Regions from separate parts of the Homo sapiens genome. Here all the other regions are linked to region 4. Evidence: fine-mapped QTL for protein levels in blood plasma. A gene starts in region 4. Each other region holds a variant in brackets. All regions are shown on one strand. Distances are between the middles of the regions. Region 1 has its middle 120 kb from the start of LINC01052. Region 2 has its middle 560 kb from the start of LINC02342. Region 3 has its middle 200 kb from the start of LINC00364. Region 4 holds the start of PCDH9 (protocadherin 9). Region 5 overlaps PCDH9 (protocadherin 9).

What was found. PIP is the chance, under the fine-mapping model, that this variant and not a neighbour inherited with it causes the effect. The UK Biobank Pharma Proteomics Project read protein levels with antibody pairs (Olink). The fine-mapping took linkage between variants from a reference panel, not from the people measured, so its PIPs are less certain.
Region 1: its variant is fine-mapped to the plasma level of the PCDH9 protein (UK Biobank, PIP above 0.99).
Region 2: its variant is fine-mapped to the plasma level of the PCDH9 protein (UK Biobank, PIP above 0.99).
Region 3: its variant is fine-mapped to the plasma level of the PCDH9 protein (UK Biobank, PIP above 0.99).
Region 5: its variant is fine-mapped to the plasma level of the PCDH9 protein (UK Biobank, PIP above 0.99).

Annotation. Positions count from the first base shown.
Region 1 is chr13:65,742,008-65,747,116 of GRCh38, forward strand. No RefSeq gene overlaps it. Among named protein-coding and RNA genes, the nearest start is that of LINC01052, 120 kb to the right of the region's middle. The variant C/G (reference allele first, on the strand shown) is at 2,438.
Region 2 is chr13:68,316,244-68,321,352 of GRCh38, forward strand. No RefSeq gene overlaps it. Among named protein-coding and RNA genes, the nearest start is that of LINC02342, 560 kb to the right of the region's middle. The variant G/A (reference allele first, on the strand shown) is at 2,183.
Region 3 is chr13:67,566,443-67,571,551 of GRCh38, forward strand. No RefSeq gene overlaps it. Among named protein-coding and RNA genes, the nearest start is that of LINC00364, 200 kb to the left of the region's middle. The variant G/A (reference allele first, on the strand shown) is at 2,742.
Region 4 is chr13:67,227,688-67,232,796 of GRCh38, forward strand. It overlaps PCDH9 (protocadherin 9), which reads right to left and starts at 2,649. Exons shown (of 5, transcript NM_203487.3): 1 at 2,093-2,649; 2 at 1-888. The coding sequence starts at 753. RefSeq lists a silencer at 2,920-3,059.
Region 5 is chr13:67,136,333-67,141,441 of GRCh38, forward strand. All of the region lies in intron 2 of PCDH9 (protocadherin 9), which reads right to left. Among named protein-coding and RNA genes, the nearest start is that of PCDH9, 91 kb to the right of the region's middle. The variant C/T (reference allele first, on the strand shown) is at 3,169.

The DNA of each region.
Region 1 (5,109 bases), 1.5 Mb before region 4:
TGCTAAAATTCACCTGTGAAACCATCTGGACCCTTGGATCTCTCTTTTTTGATAATTAATAATTAAATACATTTTAATAGGGATATGACTATTATCTGTTTCCTCTTGAGTATATTTTGACAGTTTAGGTATTTCCAAGAATTCGTTTATTCCTTAATAACAAAACGTTATCAAATGTCTGGGCATAGAGTTGTTAGTCTTGTACTTTTATAACATTTTTAATGTCTAAAGAATCCATATGATAACCCCTTTTCATTTCTTACTTTGGTTATGTCTTCTTTCTTTTTTCTCTGATAGCCTGGGATAAATATTTATCAGTTTTATTGAATTTCTCAAAGAATAAGTTTTTGTTTTTATTAATTTTCTCTATTATTTTCCTGTTATCTATTTTATTTATTTCTGCTCTAATTTTATTATATCATGTGTTTTTTGTTTAATTTTATTTTCTTTATCTGGTTCCCTAAGGTGGAAGTTTAGATAATCAATTTTAGATCTTTTCTAATAGATGAAATTAACAATATAGATTTTCATCCCAGCATTGTTTTTGCTCTTATAAAAGTTGATAAGTTTTACTTTTATTTTCATCAAATTCAAAATATTTTTAAAATTTTTCTTGAGACCTTCTCTTCGATCTCTGGGTTATTTAGCAGTGTGTTATTTAATATGCTAATACATATTTTTTCCACCTGTCTTAATTTATTAGTTTCCAATATAATTCCATTTTGGTTTGAGAATATATCTTATGTTTCCTATCCTTTTAAATATATTATGGCATGCTTTATGGATCAGATGAGGTTTATTTTATTGAATGTTTCATGTGAGCTTCAGAAGAATGTGTATTCTGCCACTGTAGGATAGAGTGTATTATAAAAGCTATTTAAATTGGTTAAAAATCTTGTTCAGGTCACCTACAGCCTTAGTAATTTTTGTTAGAGCCATATATATATATATGGGATTTTTATATTTTATGGGAAACTTAACCTCTTTATTGTACATAATACTCTTCTTCTTTTCTCATAGGCTTCCATGTTCTAAAGTTGTCTTTGTCAGAAATTAACACTGCTACTGGAACTTTCTTTTGAATTTTAGCATGTTACAACTTACAGCTTTTAACATCTCTGAGATCTTATATTAAGGAGGGTTTACTGAAGACAGTACATAATTGCGTTTGTATTTTATCCACTCTGAAAATCTGATTTCAATTGATACATTTAGAGATATAGTTAATGTTACTATGATATAATTAGATTGATATTTATCATGTTTGTATTAATAACTATTTTCTATTCCTGGCATCTGTTCTTTGTGTCTTTTTTTCTCTTCCTTTTATGCTTCTCTGGTTTAATTGAACATTTTACATGATTTCATTTTGTTCCCTCTCATCAATTGGACTACTTTTTAGGAATTTTTTTGGTTGTTGTCTAGAGTTTACAATGTATTTTTAAATTAACCTTAATCCACCTTCAAATAACCCTATGCCATTTTATCTGCAGTGGAGAAAATTTATAGCAATATATTCCCAATTCATTTCTCCCATTCTTTATGACATTGCTATTATTTATTTCATTTATTCCTGTGATATAATTACCTAATACATTATTATTATTATTGCTCTAAACAAATAATTATCTTTTAAATCATTTGAGTATAAGAAAAGTAAAATACATTGTTTCATCTTCATTTATTCTTTCCACAATGCTTTTTCTTTCTTTACATAGATATGTTTCCTACTTTAGATTTGTTTTTCTACCTGAAAAACTTGTTTTGACATTTCTAACAAGCCAGTTCTGCTGGCAATAAATTTCCTCCATATTTGTTTGTCTCAGACATCTATTTCTTCTGTACTTTTAAAGAATAATATTACTGGATATTGAATTCTAGATTGTTGGGTATTTTTCTTTCAACATGAAATATTTCAGTTCACTTTTTTTCTTGTGTGTATAGTTTCTGATAAGAAATACACTGTAATTTTTATCCTGTTTCTTCTGTGGGAAACCCCTCTCTCAGCTTTATACAATTTTCACTTTGTATTTGCTTTTTTATAGTTTGAATACTGTATGCCTGTTTTGGTTTTCTTTTTAAATTTATCATGCTTATTTTTTCTGAGCTTCCTGAAGTGTAGTTTGGTGTCTATAATTAATTTATAAAGTTATTTTTCATTAATATTTCAAATATTCCTTATGTTCTACGCCCTTTTGCTTCTCCTTTCAAACCCAATGACATTTACAGGATACTTGTTGATATTTTCTTGATGGCAAAGCTCACAAAAAAAAAATGTTTCCACCATATGGTGCAACTCCAGGAGTTTCTCATTCTCCTGCTAGTCCACATAGCTTACAATAATTTGTAAAAATTGCAATTTAAATGTTCCTACTAGTTTATGGCTCCAGCAGCTTCTGCTCCAGGTAGGAGCCTGATTATGACTGTGGATTCACCT[C/G]TCTCTAGATTTTGGTGTAGTTGTTTGCCCTGTGACTTCAAATCTCTGATGCGTCAAAGAAAAGCAATTGTTTTCTAGAAAGTCCAGCTCTTTCTTTTTGTAAGAATGGGAGTATTGACTTCCAAACTTTTTATAAGTCAGAGGTAAAACCAGAAGTCCCTGAGAATAGATTTCTGCTATCTATTAGAAAATCAGATCAAAAGAAAAATGTTGCAATAGAGTTATGAGTTGGAAAATAATTGTGGAGAAAGAAAGGGCCCAGCCACTGGTTAATTCTAAAACATAAAACAAATATGGTACATGTTCCTCTATAAGTGTCAGTTTCTGAATGTAACTCAGAAATCAGACAGGCCATAGGAATTGCATGTTGTTTTCAAAAATAGTTGGGGATTAATTGACTGAAAAAGTTCAACTCAGTTGACTTAGTCACCCTTAATTTCATGGACTACTGTTACATTGCAAGACACAAAGCTGAGACATGCTTCTAGCTTGTGTGTCCTCACTGCACTGTATCACTCGTTCTCAAGTGTGTGGGACTCCAACAGCACCAAGAAAATTCTCTGGCAGCTTTTTAAAAATGCACATTTTGGATTTTATCCCAGACATATTGAATCAGAAATTCTGGGAATAAGGCCCAGAAATCTGTTTATTAAAAAAAGCCCTTCAGGTCATTCTAATGCAGACTAAAGTTTGAGAACTGATTTCCTATATCATAGTATAGAACGATTTCAACTGTAGTATTCCCCTAGAAGGTCAACACACCACATACTGGGGATTGCTCTTTCCCCAGGTCCCTTGTTTACAGGAAAGCAGTAGAAGCAAGCTTGACTCTGCTGCAGGCCAAAACTATGTGGTCACTTAATATGACAGTGTTATTCCATTAGAAAGGCACCTTGATGAAGATTAGCCAATTAAAATGCCTCATTTGAAAATTTGGCTTTGGAATTTACTTGAATGAAGAAAATAAGTCAGCACCTGTAGATGAGGGCTATTTTCTTTTTTTTTTTCTTTTGTTGTGACAGAGTCTCACTCTGTTGCCCAGGCTGGAGAGCAGTAGCGGAATCTCGGTTCACTGCAAGCTCTGCCTCCCAGGTTCAAGTGATTCTCCTGCCTCAGCCTCCCAAGCAGCTGGGACTACAGGTGCGCCACCACACTCGGCTAATTTTTTGTATTTTTAATAGAGGCAGGGTTTCACCGTGTTAGCCAGGATGGTCTCGATCTCCTGCCGGCATGATCCACGATGAGGGCCATTTTCAAATGTAGTCTGGAAAGTATAAAAGCTAGCTTTCCCAAAGAGAGTAGAGCTGAAATGTAGAGATATTTCAAGGAACACTCAAGACAGATCTCTTTTTTTTTTAGTTTCTACTGTGCTCTATCAACAGTTCTCATCCAAACCAGAGGTAAAGCTGAACTCCTAACACTGTATTCTTCGTTAAACTTATACATTCTGGTAAGTAGATACAAATTTTGCTTAAGCTAGGTTGATTGGGATTCTTTGTAAAAGAAAAAGAGTTATAAACATCACAACAGGTAGAAGGTTTTCTCCTGATTATTAGGAAGCATCTTTCTTACCTATAATGCTTTCTGATATTTATTTAACAAAAGACCAAATAATTTACATCCAGCTTCAAATGAAGAGCTCAAACACTCTTAAGAGGAAGAGATTTTACATTACTATGTATTTGATCCAGTGAAAAGGCACATTCCAGAAAAGTTTTCATAGATGTGTGTAGTCTATCAAGTACCATTGACAGGTCTAAGACTGGACTGGTAGCATATTCACAGTTGTCTTAGTCCATTTTATGTTGTTGTAACAGAGTACCTGATGCTGGGTAATTTATTTTTTAAAAAGAGGTTTATTTGGCTCATGATTCTGGTAGCTGGAAGGCTCAAGGATAGGCAGCTGCATCTGGTGAGGGCCTCATGCTGTTTCAACTTACGGTGGAAGGTGGAAGGGAAGCTGGTATATGCAGAGACTATTTTGCAAGAGAGGAAGCAAGAGTGAGAAATCCAAGAAGCCAGATTTTTAACAACACATTCTCAAGGAAACTAATCCATTGCAGTAAGAGAAACAACTCATTAATTCCGGAGGGAGGTCATTAATTTATTTATGAGGGATCTACCCCCATGACCCAAATACTTCCCAGTAGGCCCCACTTTCCAACACTTCACATTGTGAATCAAATTTTAATGTGAGTTCTGGTGGGGACAAATCATGTCCAAACCACAGTAACAATTAAACATCGCTGGGCTGCAACAGCATCTGCAGACACAGTCACATAAACACTCGCATTCACTCACTCATTTCTGCTATTGCTCAAAATTCCAATGGGCAGTACATACACACACACACATACACCACCCCCACCCCCCAAAAAATAAACCTAATAACTGCTAGGATATCTGCCTTTGTCCAAGATGTCTCTCTATTTTCCAAACCAGACAACTGAATCGCAGATTTGACATGTGTGAGTACAAAATTTAGTATGAGGTGGAAAAGCTTTAATTGTTTATTGCAGTATATTGCAATATATTTTCTTGAGTAATACCTAATGTCCTGGAAATAAAGAATTCCAAACCAAAATAGAACTAAAGTTTTAAGAATTATCTTGCCATTATGAGCAAGTCAAGTAGATCCATTAATTTATTTAGTCTTTCTTTAGATCTTTTTT
Region 2 (5,109 bases), 1.1 Mb after region 4:
TTAGGGTCGTAGTTGCTTAAGTTTGGAATGCCTGTGACAATTTCCTAAAATAAGAAAATAATGAAGTTTGTCACTTGAATTGATTCTTCCTTTCCTGAAAGATTTCTCTGTAGGATGCAATGCTGTTGGATAACATATTATGCACAGTAGCACTTTTTCAAAATTGGAGTCAATCATTTCATACTGTGCAAATGCTTTATCAATAAAATGTATATAATATTCTGAATTATGTCTTGTCACTTCAACAATGTTCACAGCATCTTCACCAGGAGTAGATTTCAATTCAAGAAACTACTTTCTTTGCTCATTGATTAGAAGTAACTTTTATCCATTCAAGTTTGATCATGAGATTACAGCAATTCAGTCACATCTTCAGGTTTCAATTCTAATTCTAGTTCTCTCACTATTTCCACTACCTCTGCAGTTATTTTCTTCACTTTAATTTTGAACCCCTAAAGTCATCCATGAGGATTGTAATCAACTTCTTCTAAACTCCTGTTAACATTTCTATGAATCACAAATATTCCTAATGTTATCTAGAATGGTGAATTATTTCCAAAAGTTTTTCAATTCACTTTGCTGAGATCTGTCAGAGGAATCACTGTCTATGGAAGGTATAGACTTACAAACTCTATTTCTTAAATATTAAGATGCAAAAGTCAAAATTACTTCTTGACCCATGGCCTACAGAATGGATGTTGTGTTGGCAGGCATGAAAACGACATTAATCTCCTTATACATCTGCATCAGAGCTCCTGGTAACCAGGTGCATTGTCAATGAACAGTAATATTTTGAAAGGAACATTTCTGTCTGAGCGGTAGAGCTCAACAGTGGGCTTAAAATTTCAGTAAACCATGCTGTAAACAGGTATGTTTTCATCTATGTTTTGTTGTACTATTTACAGAGCACAGGCAGAGTAGATTTAGCATGTTTAAGGGCCTGAAGATTTTCAGAATGGTAAAGGAGCATTGGTAATGTCACCAGTTTCATTAGCTCCAAACAAGAGAATTCGCCTGTCTTTGGAGATTTGAAATGAGGCAGTGACTTCCTTTTAGCCATGAATGTCCTAGATGCTGTTTGCTTCCAATAGAAGGCTGTTTTGTCTGTATTGAAAACCTGTTGATTAGTTTAGCCACCTTCATCAATTATCTTAACTAATTCTTCTGAATAATTTGCTGTAGTTTTTCCATAAGCACTTGCTGCTTAACGTTGCATTTTATGTTATGGAGATGGCTTGTTTCTTTAAGCCTCATGAAATAACCTCTTCTAGCTTCAAACTTGTGTTCTGTAGTTTCTTCACCTCCCTTGGCCTTCATGAAATTGAAGAGAGTTAGGTACTGTCTCTATATTAGGCTTTAGGTAAAGGGGATGTTGTGGATAGTTTGATCATCACATGGTTTTTGTTTTGAATTATGTTTATGTGGTGAATCACATTTACTGATTTGTGTATGTTGAATCACCCTTGCATCCCACTTGCTCATGATAAATTATCTTTTTTCATGTGCTACTGGATTTGGCTTGGTAGTATTTTGTTGAGAATTTTTGTGTCTATGTTCATCAGGGATATTAGCCTGTAGCATTCCTCTTTTGTTTTCTCCTTGGCAGATGTTAGTATCAGGATGATACTGGTTTTGTTGAATGATTTAAGGAGCAATCCCTTGATTTTTTGGAATAGTTTCAGCAAGATTGATACCAGCTCTTTATGCATCTGGTAGAATTTTGCTCTGAATTTGTCTAGTCCAGGGCTTTTTTTGGGGGTTGGTAAATGGTTATTATTGTTTCAATTTAGTAACTCATTATTGATCTTCTCAGGATTTCCGTTTCTTCTTGGTTCAATGTTAAGAGTGGCATATTCCCTGAAATGTCGTCATTTCTTTGGGTTTTCTAGTTTTTATGCCTAGAAATATTCATAGTAGTCTTTGAGGATTTTTTGTGTATTTCTGTGCTATCAGTTATAATTTTAACTTTGTCATTCCTAATTCTGCTTATTTAAATCTTCTCAGTATTTTCTTGGTTAATCTAACTAGCAGTATATCAATTTTGTTTATTCTTTCAATGAACAAACTTTTCATTCTGTTGATTTTTTGGAAGTTTTATTTTTGGTCTCAATTTTACTTTGTTCAGCTCTGAATTTGTATTTTCTTCTGCTACCTTTGGGTTTGGTTTGTTCTTGTTTTTCTA[G/A]TTCCTTTAGGTGCAATGTTAGGTTGTTAATTTGAGATATTTCTATATTTTTAATGTAGGCATTAATGCTACATTAACACTGCTTTTGCTGTGTTTCAGTAGTTTTGACATGTTCTATTTTTATTTGTTTCAAAAGCGTTTTTTATTTCTATCTTAATTTTGTCATTTACTCAAAAATCATTCAGTAGCAAGTTATTTAGTTTCCATATAGTTGAGGTTTTGAGAGTTCTTCTAGGTATTGATTTCTAATTTTATTCTGCTGTGGTCCAAGAATATGCTTGCTATGTTTGTGATTTTTTTAAATTTATTGAGACTTGCTCTATGACCAAGCATGTGATCTATTTTAGAGTGTTTCTTGTGCAGATGAGAAAAATGTATGTTCTGTGGTAATTGGGTGGAGTATTCTGTAGATGCCTATTAGATCCAACTGGTCAAGAGTCCAGTTAAATCCAGAGTTTGTTAGTTTTCTGCCTTGATGATGTGTCTAGAGACATCAGCAGAGTGTTGAAGTTCCTCACTATTATTGTATGGATGTGTATCTCTTTTCTTAGTTCTAATAGTATTTGTTTTAGAAATCTTTGTACTCCAATGTTGGTCATGTATATTTTTAAGTTGATTAAATCTTGTTCAATTCAAACCTTTATCATTGTAAATGCCCTTCTTTGTCTTCGTTTTTTCTTTTTACTGTTGTTGTTTTAAAGTCTGTTTTATCTAATACAGCAAATAGCTACAGCTGCTCTTTTTTGTTTTCCATTTGTATAATAGATCTTTATCCATCCCTTTCCTTTGAGCCTGTGGCTATCATTACACATGAGATGGGTCTTTCAAATGCAGCAGAAGGTCGGGCCATTTAAAATCAAACAAACAAACAAAACAAACAACAAAAAAAAAACTAATTCACCACTCTATGGCTTTAAGTAGAATATTTAGCCCATTTACATTCAATATTAATATTTATATGTGAGATCTTGTACCTTTCAGAGTGTTGTTAGTTGCTTTGTGATCTGAATTGTGTAATTGCTATATAGGATTTGTAAGCTTTGTATTTACGTGCTCTTATGTTCTTATGTGGTGTTATTCTATTGTTTCCATGTTTAGAACTGCTTTGAGCCCTTCTTGTAAGGCTGGTCCGGTGGTGACAAATTCTTTTAGCATTTGCTTGTCTGGGAAAGATTTTATTTCTCCTTTGCTTTTGAAATTTAGTTTGGCAGCATATGACATTTTTTGCTGGCAAGTTTTTTTCCTTAAAAGGGCTAAAAATAGATCCACAATCTGTTTTGGCTTGCAAAGTTTCTGCTGAGAAATATGCTGTTTGTCTGATGGTATTTCCTTTAAAGGCAATTTGGCTCTTTTCTCTAGCCTTTAAGAGATGTTTGTCTCACACACATCTTGGATAGTCTGATGATTATATGCCTTGAGGATGGTCATTTTATATAGTATCTTGCGGATGTTCTCTGAATTTCTTCTGTTGGGATGTTAACCTGTCTAGCAAGGTTAGGGATGTTTTACTGACTTATTTCCTCAAATATGTTTTCCAAATTGCTTACTATTTTTTCTTCTCATTCAGGAACACCAATAAACCATAGAGTTGGTCATTTTATATAATCCCATATTCCTCCAAGTCTTGTTTATTTTTTATTTTTTATTTTTTAATTTTTCTGATGGAGTTAATTTGTAAGAGTGGTCTTCAAGCTCTGAAATTCATTCTTTTTGGTCCAGCCTATTGTTAAAGCTTCCAGCTCTATTTTGAAAAAAATTTAAGGAAGTGTTCAATATCAGAATTTCTATTTTTTTGGTCAAATATAGCTATCTTGTCCTTCACATTCTGAATCACTTTTCTTGTTTCTTTATGTTAGATTTCAACTTTATGTTGGATCTCATTGAGTATCTTCACAATCCATATTTTGAATTTCCTGTCTGTCATTTCAGACTTTTCAGGTTAGTTAGGATACATTGCTATAAAACTAGTGTGATCATCTGGGGGTGTCAACATACTCTGGCTCTTTGTACTGCCAGAGTTCTTATGCTATTCCTTCTCATCTGAGGAAAATGTTGCTTCTTATTTTTGAATTTGCTATCATTTGGATGTAACTTTTATATATTTTAAAATTCTTTCTTCCTTTGAGGTTGTAACTGTGATATATGTTGCATATGATTATTTGTCTTCATGTTTGGATATGTTTAGTTGGCTAAGGATCTGTACATGTTCTGTGGGTTGTGGATAGCTTTTGTACAGTGTTTTCTCAGATGTTGCTTATTGCAGCAACATATTGGACATATGCACGGATATACAAACTCCTATAGGGCTGAATGTATAGAAGTCTCAAGAAGCTTATTCATGGAGTAGCACTAAGCTTTTCTGGCAGTAGGGTTTTTATTTGGGGGTACAGTTCAGGCTGCAGTACAGTTGATGGTGCTTTGGACTAAGAGCTGGCTCACCCTTAGGCTGATGATAAATGGAAGCACCATTGGGAGGGTGGCAGAAAAAGATAATTTTGGGTTGCTCTGAGCTCTCAAGGGAAGAAGCCAGGAGCTGGCTTCTTTTCCTGAGCCAGCAGAAATGCAATCTGCTTCCCTATTGTGTCCCATCGCAGGGCTTGTGACAACCAGTTTATAAAGAATTATTCCTTTATTTCCCAGCCACAGTGCAGGTGAGGGTAATAGATATTCTTCTTTTATGGCTACCACTAAAATGCGCATGGGACAGAGCCTCTTCCTCCAGTCCAGAGCAGGCAGCTCTGTGAGGTATCCATCCTCCATTGCAGGGATGCTGCTGCTTTGTGTAGAGAAGGGGAATTGGGCCACACCCTTCATATAAGCCCAAGCAGCATGGACTCACTTTCAGCAGGGGTGAAGCCACCACAAAAAGTATGAAAAATGCTTTCTCGAAGTGTAAATGTGCCAGCCCCCAGCAAGAAAAACCACTG
Region 3 (5,109 bases), 340 kb after region 4:
CCCAAAAGGGCATTTGGATCAGAACATCTTATAGGCAAATATTCCTAGATTTTCAGGGAATAAAAAATTTCTATGCATAAAAAACAAAGGAAACATCCTGTTTCTTTGAGAGTTTTATAACCTGCTATGACAATCAGGCAAAGCACACACCCACAAAGACACACACACAAAGGGAAAATTATAGATAAGTACCACTTATTAGTATATATCAGTATTAGTGAATCAGTAATATTAATAGTATAATAGCAATCAGTATTAATGTAATCAGTAAATAAACCTGTTATTAAAAAGGCTTTTTTACTAGCATGAATAAAATTAGGCTTTCTTAAATAATGAATGAATGAATGGGAGGAACACTTGTACAATTATTTGAATTAAGATGATGATATTCAAGCTTCTTGAGGAGAAATAGGGAATCTCTAAATCAATCTATAATATTTGATATTTAAGAAGTGTACAAGCAGCACAAAATTTTTGAAGACTTCTACATTTTTAAATAAATGTTTTGTTTTGAAATAATTTTAGTTTTATTTTGAAAAGTTGAAAGCGTACAGTTACGATAGAACTTGCAATCAGTTTCTCTTAATGTTAATGTAAAATGTTATAGATTAATATCATATATAATATATTACATATATAATATATATAGTGTGTGTATATATATATAATATTAACCATGGAACATTTGTCAAAACTAAGAAATTATCACAGCTTACTACTATCAACTAAACTGCACAGGTTATTAAGATTTAGCAAGCTTTCCACTAATGTTCTTTTATGGTTCAATACAATTCAAGATACCACACTTAGGCACGATCTCTCTGTATTCTCCCCTTGCCTGTCACAATTCTTCAGTCTTTACTTATATCTTGTGACATTAACAGTTTTGAAGAATATTGGTCAAATATTTTGCAGAATGTCTCCAAATGTTGTCTGTCTGCCATTTTTCTCATGATATCTCATGTTATCAATATAACTCATTACTGGTTATGCTAGCATTGATCCCTTGGTTTAGGTAGTATTTGCCAGATTTCTCCACTGTAAAGTTCGTATTTTTTTCATTTCATTCTGTGTGTGTGTGTGTGTGTGTGTGGTTTTTTTTTTTTTTTTTTGGAAACAAGCCATTAAATTCAATCTACACTCAGAGGGAGGGGAATTCAGCTTCACCTCCTAAAAGCGAAAGTATCTATATCTAACATTTGAATTTTTTTTGTAAGAGAGATTTTTCCCTTTTCTCCATTTATTTATTTATTTATTTATCTATTTATTTAATCGTTCTTACTATGGACTCATGTAAACACATTTTATATTTTGAGTTATAATCCAATACTACATTATTTAAATTGTTGGCCATTGAAAATTCTTTGTGTAATCTCTGTTTGCCTTCATCCTCCCTCCAGGGATGTACTTCCTTCTTTCCTGGCACTACAAGATGCTCCAGGGTCCTCTTGTATTTTCCTATCCCAGGCCTAGAGGCTGCTTTCTCCAAGGAGCCCTGGTTTCTTTTTTTGGAGAATGATTTCTAGAAATCAAGACCTGGACATTGGGTTCCTACATTTTCACCGTTCAAACACAAAATAAATAATGATAATAAAGTAAATAATAAAAAATTCTATTCTTCAAATTCGGAATAAGAATAATAATAAAGTTAAATTCCCAAGCCTCTGTTGCCACTAGGAATACCATGATGTGGAACTTAATTACATGAAAAAAATTTAGGACACATTAAGTCAATGTAGCTGTTAAGGGTGATAGCAGGGGTACGTGGGTCTGGTGGCAACAGTGGAAGCTACGGACATTTCAGTTGTGTGTGCAGTGTTTTTTGGTGAGTTGTTCATGGAAGGATCTAGTTTCTCCAGCTTTTCAATTACTTTGTAAATTGACTCCTAACCTGTTATAATCTCTATTCTTAAAATAGCTGCAGTATATTATTGTCTAAAATTAAGAGTGCTGACCTAGGCATTAAGAGTGGGACAGAAAATACCAAATACATGTCATCAATTCAGAGCATATGGCAAATCTTAGAGTGATCCAATCAATCTGTAAGACTCCGACTTTAAGGGAAAGCAAACAAAATCCAAAATAATTATCCAATATGCTCGACCAGTCATAATTAAAAAGACATTTCAATTTTATCATCCTTAAACATGGATGTTGAGCCATTGATGTAAATTCACCATGAAGAAACCACCTTGAAGGCGTATGCATATCAGAGAGTAAACTTACACATATGAAATGCGTTAGTACCTTCAGACCTTATGCAAGCTGTGATCTTTTTATAATGATTGAGTATTACACGAATTACCTAACATTATGACAATGTTTGTTAGATAGCATTATTTTGGAATGAGCAGCTTAAAGAACATGATCACATAATTCCCAAATGGTTTGATATTCAGTTTCCACTAAAGTCCTAAGATAATTCCAGAGCTATTTTCAATAGTAGAAAAGATTATTGCTAATATATGTATGATCTTCATCAAAACTCTTCGGTTTTTCTTTTACAAGTTTCCTGTTTGAGACTTCCCAACTCGGTAATCTGCCAGTGTTTGAACTTTACACAATTTACCAGGTCACGAAGCTGCAATTTCAGAGTTGTACTCTGAAACATGGAATGGTGCAAGGCCTTTCTCTTATATAGGACTGTATTTGAAAGTAATTTGAGTTATAAAGAAAATAATTTTCATCAGGCAATATTTTAGGGCCTGCCTCTATGTCCTCAGCATTGAGCTTCTTCCTTC[G/A]AAGAACTGATAAGCAGCTATTTGTATACCCTATTTTACTGTGTCATTTTTCTACCAATAATTTTACTGATGTAGCAGGTCCTTTTTTGATGGGATATATTTTCTCTGACAAACATGGGTGTTAAAAATATCAGATTTTTTTTTTCCTTATTGCTCTCTAGGTCCTACAAGCATGATAGCATTAGGATGATGGACCAGAATGATGTTCTGTGTGATGATGAGGGCATTGCGGACCATGTGGACCACAAGGAGGCATGAAATGCAAGGACTAACATGTCACTGAGGCGGTAGAGTAAAATCTGTTCTTACTTTACTGCAAGAAAATCAAATGGGGATTTTAACATTTACCATATAGAATGTGCTATCCCCATCAATAGCGGCATTTCAGATATCAGAGGCTATGTTGATATAGCCATATATGGCACTTTCCCATTTGCTGGTATAACAAACTTAGTGATGTAAAACAACACAAAGTTATCATATTATATTTCCATAGGTCTGAAGTTCAAAATTAGTGTCACTGGGCCAAAATCAACTGCCAGCAGGGCTATGTTGCTTTCTGAAAGCTCTAGAGGAGAATTCACTTCTTCGCCTTTTCTACCCTCTAGAGATGGAAAAGTTCATAGTCCCCTTTCACATTTACAAGGCCAGCAACATAGTGTTTCTCTAACCTTGCTTCTGTCTTTTCATCTCTTTTCCTTCCACAACTGGGAAAATTCTCTACTTTTAAGGATCTATGTTGTTATTGTGGGCCTACCTAGATAATCCAGGATGTCCCTCCCATACCAAGGTCATTAACTTAATTACATCTGCAAAGTTCTGTTTGCAATATAATCGAATACTTTCACAAATTCTGGGGATTGGAGCATGGAAAACTTTGAGAAACCATTATTTTGTCTACCATACCATTTTATCAGTTATATTTGTAACAAAAGTCAAATTTGCATCATCATTTTAGATGATTTTCTAAGAATATCCAACTTTTTTTTTTAAGGGAACTGGAGAATTAAGTTGGACTATCATAGAGATTATTGTACCTGTGACTTCCTAGCCCCTAATGACTGAAATATCCTTTTATATTTAACTCAGTAATGATGATGTAATAATGACACTAATAATGATAATGGTGATTTGGCTGGGATGGGTTCCATTGATATCCAGCTGTTTCTTTATGTTACAATATTCTGTATAGGCTAAGAAAGTATTGTTAGAAAATAAAATTTTTGTTATATTTTTAGGACCTGAAAAAATGATTGAAGATTATAAGGATCAAGAGTCAAAGGTTTTACTCTAAAATGCTCTACTCTAATTGGCATTCACAATAATATTATGAGTTCCTAGTAATTATAATTAGCTCGGAATCAAGCCAGTTTTCTCAAAATCTTGATTTTTTTTAATTTCCCACACATTTATCTGTGGGAAATGTGAGAAATGTTAGTAGACGCATATCATTTTATAAAAAATTCCTGAAAATAAATCTGTCTATCAAGGTAGACAGTAGGTAGACTCTGAGGCTGATAAATATTGACAATTATGTGATTTTTTTATGGTTGTGAATCAAGTTGAAACAGGACTATTTGCCAGTCCTGTATTGTTTTGATTTTACTAATCAAGTAGTTTAGCTTCCTTTCAACTTAATCCTTGGAAATTCATTGAGTTTCAGGAAGCTCTACATGTCATACCATTCACCATTCCCTGACCCTTCAATGCTGCAGATAGACTGAAGACTGTCATATCGCGATGATCACACCAACTTCATTTTTGAGAAAACTGAACTCATCTCAGTAAGGTTCCTCCAATCACAATTGATATCAGAAATCTTCATTGGATCATGGACTCTTCCACCATCATTTCAAGAACATCAAAGCAAAGTTTCAAAGATTCTTTTGCTCCCTTTATCAATATATGCCATATGCAAATTGTGTGTGTGTGTGAGAGAGAGAGAGAGAGAGAGAAATTTTCAGAGTCTGGAAGAGAACAAAGATTGGACTCAGTGTAAAGATAACACATAAAAAAAGAAATCAAATATTCTAATCTGAAGATTTGCTAGTCATTATTCTATATTACATTAAATTATGTATAATTTTCTAATATCACGTAGCATGAGCCAGACTTTGGTTAAGATTTACATTATCTAATTCAGCCAATGGAAATAACTATAGCTGACTTTCCAAATATGCTATTAAATACAGAATCATTTTGCATGTGTGTGCATAAATATGTACACATGTATAAGCATGCACATCTATAGCAATGAAATAAGCCCTCCAAAATTAATCTTCTTTAATCGAGAACTGTCAATATTGTGCCGGCAAAATTTCTCATTTTTAACATGTAAATTAGGGAAGTTTTATAAATCCTTTTAAAA
Region 4 (5,109 bases):
CACTGGCCTGTTGTCATTTACATCACTTACTGTGACCTGCAGTATGGCCGTACTGGATTTCTGTGGAGTGCCTCCATCCTCTACTTTGATTTTCATCACATAGGTATCTTTCTGTTCTCTATCCAAGTTTTGCTGAACAATCAGTTGTGGCCACTTCTCTCCCTCTGGAGTTTCCACGATATCCAGTCCAAAAACACTCTGCCCATTTAACAATTCATAATGCTGTACACCATTGAAGCCTGTGTCAGGATCTGTTGCTGATGGAATTGGAAAGCGGCTGTTGATCAAAGTGTTTTCTGGAATGGAAATATTGATGACAGGAGATGGAAACATGGGGGCATTATCATTGGTATCCTTGACAATTATTTTTATTTTGATCAGCCTGAAGAAATCATTGGGGAGGATCACCACCTCAAGTTCAAAGAAACACTCATTCTCCTCAGCATATGAGGCGCCAGCACAGAGTTTTTCTCTGTCTATTCTGTTGGAGGTTGTGAAAATTTCCCCAGTGCTGCTGGAAACTTTCACCAAAGGGGCATCCCCAGCTTTAGAAACCAGTCTGTAGACAAGGCTGGCGCTGGTCCCTGTGGCAGCATTGATGTGAGAAATGTTCAGATCCTTTGGTATGTTTCCTATGGGCACATTTTCAGGCAATTCCTCTCTAATAGTGTAAATAAGTTCTTGAGCTATTGCGGAATCCAGCCTTAAACAGGCAATCAGAGCAGCCAACAGGTAAAAATCCCTCAGGTCCATGATAATGTATTTATTTTCTTTTCCTGGATTTTAGGGTTTAAAGGTTTCCACTGAGGAATGATGCACAAATTGCAAGAGGAAGCGTGCATGGACTGGAGGATGCATTATATCTCATCACTTATTTGGAGACAGCCGCTGTCAACACAATTGTATAGACAATATTATTCTTCAGTAAATAAAAACACACCGTCACAAAATATCACCACACATTTTCCCCTGAACATTAGTAAACATGGCAGTTTGCTCTGCCACTGTTTGCAAGTTTACTCTGTGGAGAAAAACACTAAATATCTCCTGCTGGTTGCATTTGCCGGGAGAAAATAAAATTTTCTACTTTTGAATTAAGGACAGCTGCTATTTTTACCTATATTCACGCACGTTGTTTTTCAGAATACTGTTTAATTCAAAACATGCATTCTTGTTCTCCTCTTCCCCTCCCCCTGTCTCACCCTCCTCCTAGCCTCTAACCTACCTCCCTCAGTCTTTTCAGGTGCAAGTGAAAAACACTAAGTATTTAGCTACGGTTCCTGCTAATTGCTTTGTCACATGTCAAATGTGTTTTCTTCTCTGCCCCACTGAGTCACCTATCTTTTCTAAAAAGGCTATCTTTTTCTTTCCTCCCAGTTCTTCAACTGCCTTCTAATACAATCTTACTGGGAAACGAGCATCCGGACATGCCGCTGCAGCGGCATCAGAAGCAATAGTCACCGGCCTCTACACATCCTCATTGCCTAAAAGCACAACAACAAGACTTCAGATTTCTTGCCCACAGCTTGCTCTCCTTTCTCCATATTGACAAATTATCCTCATTAGGATTCATAAACACATTAAAACTTTTAAAAATGTATAATAATATAGGATTCATTTTCCTAGAGGTGGAAGAGAGTGCCGAGATATAAGTGAAACGCAGCTAACATTCCCATGTAACATCACAATATTTTCTACTGAACATAAAAGAGAAAAAAAATGCAATTTCTTAATCCTGATCTCTGGTTAGAATATTAGTAACATTTGCCACACATAAATACTGCAACCCAATCATGCAGGTAAAAAGGCTTCTGCTTAGATAACTGCAGTTTAAATGGGTGCAAGGCTCCAGGCAGCTACCTACTTGAGTAGGACTGGTCAGTTCTCAGGCTCTAATCTTATCTGCATTAGGCTGCACAGTAGCTGATGCCCGCGATTAGTTCCGGCAGAGTGATGCAGGTAGGGATGCAGATACAGCCGAGTAGGTGAGCTCTGCCCCAACCGTCTACCCAATTACAAGCATCTTTCGCCTACACTGAGGACACATCTAAACACAGAATTTACAATTGTGCATGCGAAACTTTACACTTACGTTAGTTGCCTCAACCTTTCCCCTTTCCCAGTATGCTGCAGTTAGGAATGATTTGTTCCAACACATAGAAAGCCATGCATCTGGTAGCACCAGTTTGGGGAGAAATCAGAAGCAGCAAAATGTTTCCTCCTTGTAAAATGTGTTGCTTCGGGCTGGCAAATTAGCAACTCCAGAGAACAAATTCACGGATTTGTCGTTAGTCATTCTCTCCACATTTCGTCTCTCTTACCCACTGGGTCTGGGTTCTTCTGGGCATTTAGCACACACAACACATAGTTGCACTTCTTCAGCTCAGGGATATTTTCCACAGCAGCATGCATACCATTTCCATCCGATGCCAATACTGCTTAAGTCTCTAACTTCTTGTAGGAAACGTCAGAGTTGCGGTGATGATGATTCTCTGACAGCTATCCGGGTGACAGTTGCCCGAAAAATTCCTAATCGGTTATCTCTTGCGTGCTTCAGAGACTCTGAGGCGCTCCTTTCCGTCTCGCGTGCTCTCCCTCTCTCCCTTCCCCTCTGCCCCTCTCTCCTTCTCCCTCTCCTCTCTCTGAACTGAATTTCTTGATATAACTCTCAATAAGCCCAGAGGGAGGGCGTGACTGCCCAGGCCCCGCCCCCGGGCTCTGATTGGCCTGCATCTTGCGGCGCGGGCGGCCGCAGCCCGGCGCGAGGGAGGGAGCGCGGAACAAGGCGCTGACTGTCTCCCAGCCTCCCCTCCTCCGCGCCCCCTCGGCAGCAGCGAAAACCCGGAAATCTGATCCTGGCCCCAGGAGAGCCGGGTTCCATGAGGTGCACTGAGCATGCTCTGCAGGGTCCGGCGTGGGAGGGACGCGCTGGCGCTCCCCAGGCCCGGGCGGAAGCGGCGCTCGCAGGCGCTGAAAGCGAGCGACCCTCTGAGCCCGGGTGGTCCGGCGGGCAAGGGCGGCGCGGGAGACCCGCAGGGCGCGGGCGCGGATCCGGGGAACCAGGGCCACCGCTGCGGGCGGATGGGGGTCACCGAGGCGGCTCGTCTCCAGGCGCACACTTCGCACATCTCTTTGCTAAGTGAAGGGGCCAAAATGCACAGATGGGGGAGTCTACCCAGGAACAGAGGCGCGAGACGTATAGCCACCCCTGGGTTGGGAGCACGAGCCAGCAGATCCCCGGAGCGCGTTAAACGGACAACATGCCCGGTGCTGCAAATAGAGGCTTTTGCTGGCAGGGACATTGGAAAGAAGGGCGGAGAGGGAGTACAGCGAAAGGTGGGGACCGCAGAATTTGGAATCTCTGCGGAGACCGGAAAGAAAATTAATCGGAGCACTTCCTACATGCAGAGCCACGGAAACTGCCTTGGAAAGAGAAAGTGGCAGCGTCTGGGTCCCCTCGGTCAGCCCGGGCCAGTCGGCTGCGCGTGCGAAGTCTCCTCTAGCGGAGCGGGACCGGCCGCGGCGGTGGATCGTGGCGGTCCCTGCACTTCTGCTCCAGCCGCGCCTGGAAACCTGAGCCCGGACTCGCGGCTGCTGCAAAACCCGCTTCCAGCCCACCTCACTGCGAACTTTGCTTCCGAGGGGCTGGAAGGAGTCCCAGGCAGCTGTTTCCCAAGCTGTGGAACACTTCCTTTCCCCTAGGCACTTTCTGCTGATTCCAACTTTCTTTCCTGTGATTTTCGTCTTTTCCCGTGCATTTCATTTCTCCGACTCCAGCTCTGTACTAAATCCTCACAAGTTTCTCGTTTTCATACGGGAACTGGATGGAATGACTCCCCAAAAAATACAGCTTTATTTCTCAAATACTGACCCCCAAAGCACTATCTAGTAATATATTTGATTGATCTTTCAAAGTCAGTAAACCACAAAGGTTTGTGTAATGGCTTGTACTTAACGCCTGATACCTGAGTAAAGTTTGAAGCATTAACATAGGAACAGTTCACTTGGAACAAAAATTTATTTTCTGAATGACCTATAAAGGTTGTCAGAGAAGGTCTTAGTACATGATTGAATAACTTGGTCTAACTTACAGGAAGAATAAAGGGCATTTATTTTAAACCTGTGTGTTCCCCATTCTATAATGGGCTGCCTAGGCATTAAAGGCTCTTGACATACTTAAGCTCTTGACTGAGGGCGTGTTGGAGATTACCCCTTGTTTTTGAGTACAATAGTTTTGTTTGCTTTTTTTCTTTTTTAAGTAACATTTGTTTTTAGACGTTTAAATGAAAAGTAAAAAAAAAAAAAAACACCAATCAAGCTTACTAAGCCATATATTGAATAAATAATGACATGATTTAACCAACTAATTTGACATCACAATTTTCCAACATGAAATTGTAAGCTCTTTTTAATTCAAACTTTTCTGAGTTAATATTCACAGTTCAACTGCAGTGTCTAAAAGCCCACTGTAAAATCCATTAATCCCTTATATGTAAAATATAAAATACTTTCCTTGCAGATAATAGACTGATATTTTTTAAATAGCAAAGCAACTTTTATTATAGTAATATTTTGTATGATTAGAATATATAAAATTCAAGAATAGAAAGGACTTACAAGTATCCCAAAGTGAAAAGAAAAATATTGCCTCACAGAATAATGTCAGTGAATGAAAGGATGATTCTTTTATCTTACCACAGTAAACGATCATTTTGCCATTCACAAAATCTACAATTAAAGCTAGTACATTGTTCCAATTGTCACCTATTTTATGCACTGCACTGTTTTTAAATAAATGAACCATCATTGTGATACATTTACAATAAACATAGCAGCACAGCCACTTTCCAGTTCATTTCATAAGCACCACAGTTATATCATATTCTTATTCTAATCATACCGTAGTCATTTCAAAGTCATGTTGTAGTCGCAACACATAGCTTAGCAATAATTATTTAACATCATTATTAAACGGAGTTGTTTCTCTTTGCTAAGGATAGCTTCACGTGTTGGCAGAACCCATTATTACCTCCTGCTCATAAATGAAATCTTAGTTTGAACACAAGATGAAGGTTAGAGAAGAGAAAAAAAAAATCATCACATGATTCA
Region 5 (5,109 bases), 91 kb before region 4:
GCCTAACAACACATTTCTCAGAACTTATCCTATTGTCAAGTGACGCATGACTGTGTAAGTGATAAGGTGGGGAAGAATCAACCCTTCACTGCAGTGCCTGTTTCTCTTCATGTGTGCCTGTGTTCCACATGACATTATAGTCTAGACCTGCAGGTGGTCCTTTGAGTTTGTTGCATCATATAATGCTAAAGTAAGAAAATTTGGGAGAGTTTATACTTTGAGAATTCAATATGCTGTATTAAATTGTACTCACTGGAAATATAGGCTAGCTAAACTCTATATAAATGGTGTAGTTCAGGCAGATATTATGGTCTAATCTCTTTGAAATGGAGACTGAAATTGCTGTCTGAATCAATCACTTGGATTTTAATTTTATATTTTACAAATGTAAATAATTTTATATTTTCCAAATTTTACAAATGTTAGTTAATAATAATAGTTATGTTATATATGAAATGGAGACTCAAATTCCAGTCTGAATCAATCACTTGGACATTAATTTGATAGTTTACAAAGGTTAGTTTATAAGAATAGTAATAGTAATAGACATCAAAATATCTGTGGCTCTAGTTTCTCTGTGTCTGCATTTTACACAACGTGTTTATGAATAAAAGTTTCTATAAAATGATTTATGAAAATTATCTACATTAGGTTTATCTCTTGTAGATAATTTTCATAAATCATTATGTAAATGATGAGTTAATGGGTGCAGCACACAAACATGGCACATGTATACATATGTAGCAAACCTGCACATTGTGCACATGTACCCTAGAACTTAAAGTATAATAATAAAAAAAAAGAAAATTATCTATATTTATTTATCCTGCAGTGTTGCTGTGTAGCAATGTGAGAAGCTGGGACTTCTAATCTAATCATTTTGTTCGGTAAATATTTTGTCATTCCTGTGAAGAGCCAGGGCTTGATACGGGTGAGCCAAGTCATATTCAGGTAGTAATATAAGGAAGATAACTGGGTGGTAAACTATTTAAATCATATCGTTTGTATGAAACCTCAAACTGTAAGCTCAACGGAATGTACCAGAGTATCTGTCACTATTTCCTCAGCCTGCTTTGTCAAGTGCAATTTCGTAGGTAAAAACTTTGGGGTGATCCTCGTGCCTCCATCATAAAGATGAAAATATAGCATGAATTATCTTTGGTGATAAAGAACACTTACCAAAATAGAGATGACTCAACTTCTACACACAGCAGAGCTGTGTTGTAATGGAAATTGGCTTTCAGCTTCTGAGACATGTAATTTTATAATACATTTTAGAACATTTAACCTCTCCACATTTTTTTCAGCTCTGTCTGCAATAGTGAGAGGTAGTGCTATTGTTACAGAGTCTGCTAAAGCTACTAATGTCCTATTTATATACAGAAATAAAAGGAAATTCTTCCTTCTCTGGTGGTCTCTTTCAGCTACTAAAAAAGTTGCTTGGCCTAAAAATGTCATCAGCCACAGGGATTATTTGATTTGCTTTGTCCATAATTGATTACTTGGCTTTTACCAAAAAAAGCACATCTCAAAAATGTCCAAAAAAGGAGAGGAAATATGTTCAATTCTATGTAAAAAATTTCTAAAAATTTTTGAAGCTGAAAGGAATGCCCATAAACAATCTGATTCCAGTCTTATTTTCAGTAGTCATGCATAAATCATGTTCTATGACACAGAGAGAAAGAGATTTTTTACCTAAAGTGGTATTTATAAGAATTTTTAGCAGACTGGGAAGAAGTCCACTTTAGCTAAATTAAAAAAAAATTCACCGACTTCTATATATTATGAAGTGGTTTTGAATTCTATCTTTACTATTTATTTGAAATTTTCTGAGCAAAGTACTCTGTCTCATTGATCCTCAATGTCCTCCTATACAAAATGGCAAAAAGAACACATCCCCATTTCATTGAAGTGTTGTGAGAACCAAACAGGCTGAAATATCTGGCCTGTTTAGAATATTATCTAGCACACCATAAGCACACAATACAGGGTGCCCATTATTCATGTGACTTATGTAAATTGCAGGAAATATTAAAAATATTATTATAACGGGTTTTGTTTGTTCATGCTTTATTTACAGTTTGTGCCACCTGTTGATCTGAACTGAAGCAGGAAGGAAAATAGGGTCTGGAGGCAGGGAACATAAGGCCCATTCACACTTCAGCTATGACAGGAAATATCTGCTCCAGAGGGCATAGGCCAAGTGAACGACTTTGTGACTTTACTTCATCCTCTCCATTTACATAGGGCGTACCCCGAGTCACCAATGGAATCCTCTAGGGGGTATTTAAACTCCCAAAAATTCTGTAATGGGGCCTTTTGAGCTCCTATGCTCAGGCCTGCGCCCGCATTGTGGAGGGTATTTTCATTTTTAGTAAATCCCTTTGTCCTTGCTTTGTTTGTGCATTTTGTCCAATTCTTTGTTCAAGACACCAAGAACCTGGATACCCTCCACTGTTAACAGAACTACTGAACTTATTGCTAATATGTTAATATATTATTGAAAATAGCCTATACATATGAGAGTAAGTAAATACTTTGATCAAGCCACACAAAATTATCCGAGGAAACAAAGTGGAACAGTTATGGTTTAAGGTAAAATAATGTAAAACAATATCAACAGTATGTATGTCTATGTGATTGAGAAAATGAATCTTGTATAGTAAGGATCCAGAGCAGTAAGATAATACCTGTATCAGGAAGGAAATGCCACTCCGTTCAATTCTCAAGGGCAAAACTCTAGTCAATCCTATCACATGTGCACCTTCTTCTGCCCTGACATCTGCCATGTCTTATTTTGCATAAGCCATGGTGAATTCTGTCAAATCACCCAAGTAATAACATAACCATCTGAAACATTAACTGAAGACTTTCTTCTGACATCGGCTGTCACACTATGTGTGAATCAAATTTGCTTCATTAAAATAATTTGGGTTTTGTTCTGACTGCTCAACATTGCCATTTGAATCTGTGAGCAGCCTTATTGACTCTTAACCGCTATTACCAAGTCTTAATCGCTCAGAGATTCAGCACAGTTGGATATTGCAATCAGAGCAAATTCCCCATTTGATTCCAGCACAGAAGTTACCAATGAAACTAACAGAGTGATAATACAAAATTATCCGACTTCATCTCTTTTTCTCTCAATTCTCTGTGACTAAAATGAAA[C/T]CATTTAGGAACTTACTTGTAATCTGCTATTTCTTGAGTTTGCAGTGGCTACTGAAATGCACTATTGTAAGATTTCGAACATATCTCAAATATACTACTATTATACTAAATATACTACTTTAAAATTAGAAGTGTCCTGATAATCAGCAGTTTTGCTTTTCAAAGTGCACGACTTGTACATCTGGTTACCCAATCCAGTTGAGAGGCAATCATAATAGGTTCAGGTTTCACCATAGCACGACATCTGCTCTGCAGTACCCAATCTGACTCTGCATATGAACCCTTGAAATAAAGTCATTATGTTTTCATTAAGTCCAAAGCAGTTCACATCAGCTGACATTTGGTCACAAATGATAAACAGTTAATAATTAAGCCAACTGAAATATTTTCAAGTACGCTTTTTTTGGTGCTTGCAATTATTTTTGTGACAGGATAGAATAGTTTTCTTTCTCTGAAATACAACTTCATAGGATAATTCCATCAGCTGCATTCCCTTCTGCTACTGAAAATGTGATTTTTTGATCACCCCCCCCCCCCCGCCCATTGTGTTATTTTTTAAAACAACACTATTCTTGGAGTTTAAGGAAGGGTTAAATCAGAAAAGAGCATGCTTGCTAGCATCAGCGGCTACTTATTTATGACAAGAACACTTTTAGTCAATTATTGTCTGAAATACTAAATGTACCTCCTGGGGTCCAGCATTTAGTCATACAAAGTGTCTGGCTCACATTGCCAGAACTGACCATTAATTATGATGGCTACAGGTAACAATCCATGCATAGCTTAGCTTTTTCTGGAAATTTTACAGCACAGAACCTGTTAGAGCTAAGGTAAGATAAGTTTGCCAGTGGAAAAATTAAGAGAAAAATATTGCAATATTTGAAAGACCCTTTAAAGTAACTAATTCAAGTGCTTTGATTTAGAAATCAGAAAACCCAAGAGAATGATAATGACAAGTACATACAAATGGTATTTAGCTGCTTCAAGTCTAGAAACCAGTCCTCTTTTTAGAGGTATGGAGCAGGTCAGGTGTTTTCAAACCTCAGGGCCCTTAATAATTACCTTCAGTGCTTTATAGAAAGTAATAATTCTAGGTGTCCACCCACAAAGATCCTGATTTAATTGATCTGGGATGGAACCTATACCTGGTATTTCTTTAAAAACCCCAGCTAATTCCAATGTGCCTCCTCCACTCTACTGATCTCTTTATTTGTACCTTCAGGAGAAATGCTTCTCTTTTTTTAGGATAAGAAACAGTTTGTTCTTATTTTGATAAAGGCATGCCCTGGCCACTATGAGCCATGTGCAGCACATTTCTCTCATCATCTTGGCTGTTAGAAAGTTTAAAGTCAATTATAAAGTGAACACTGTGTGTCTGCACAGTACTTCAGTGAATATATTCTTTCCTCGGTCAGTTTTATGATCCTAATTTTTCTTTCTTTTGCTTTTTCCCCCTCATTTTTTTCTGTAATATTTACTCTCTTGCTATTGTATGTATTATTGGAAGCTATCTTTTCAGCACAACTTGGGCCATCAAAAGAGATAAGGAACTAGACGCCTAAAAATGTAGAAAAGAAAATAAAAATATGTGATTAATGACAATTAGCATCCTAAAGAGTTTAGAATGGCTTTATCATTTTGTTTGGAATTCCAAAAAGCCTTACGATAGACAAAAATAAAACGAGAGAAGAGCACATATGCAATACAGTGGGCTAAGTGTTATGAGTAAGTGGAAAAAGTGAAATGAGTTGAAATGCAGACGGCATGAAAGATTAGTAGTGGGAAGAAGAAAGAAAGGGAAATGGGGCCGAGTGTGGTGGCTCATGCCTATAATCCCAGCATTTTGGGAGGCTGAAGCAGGAGGATCACTTGACCCCAGGAGTTCAAGACCAGCCTGGGCAATATAGTAAGATCTTCTCTCTCTCTCTCTCTCTTTATTTT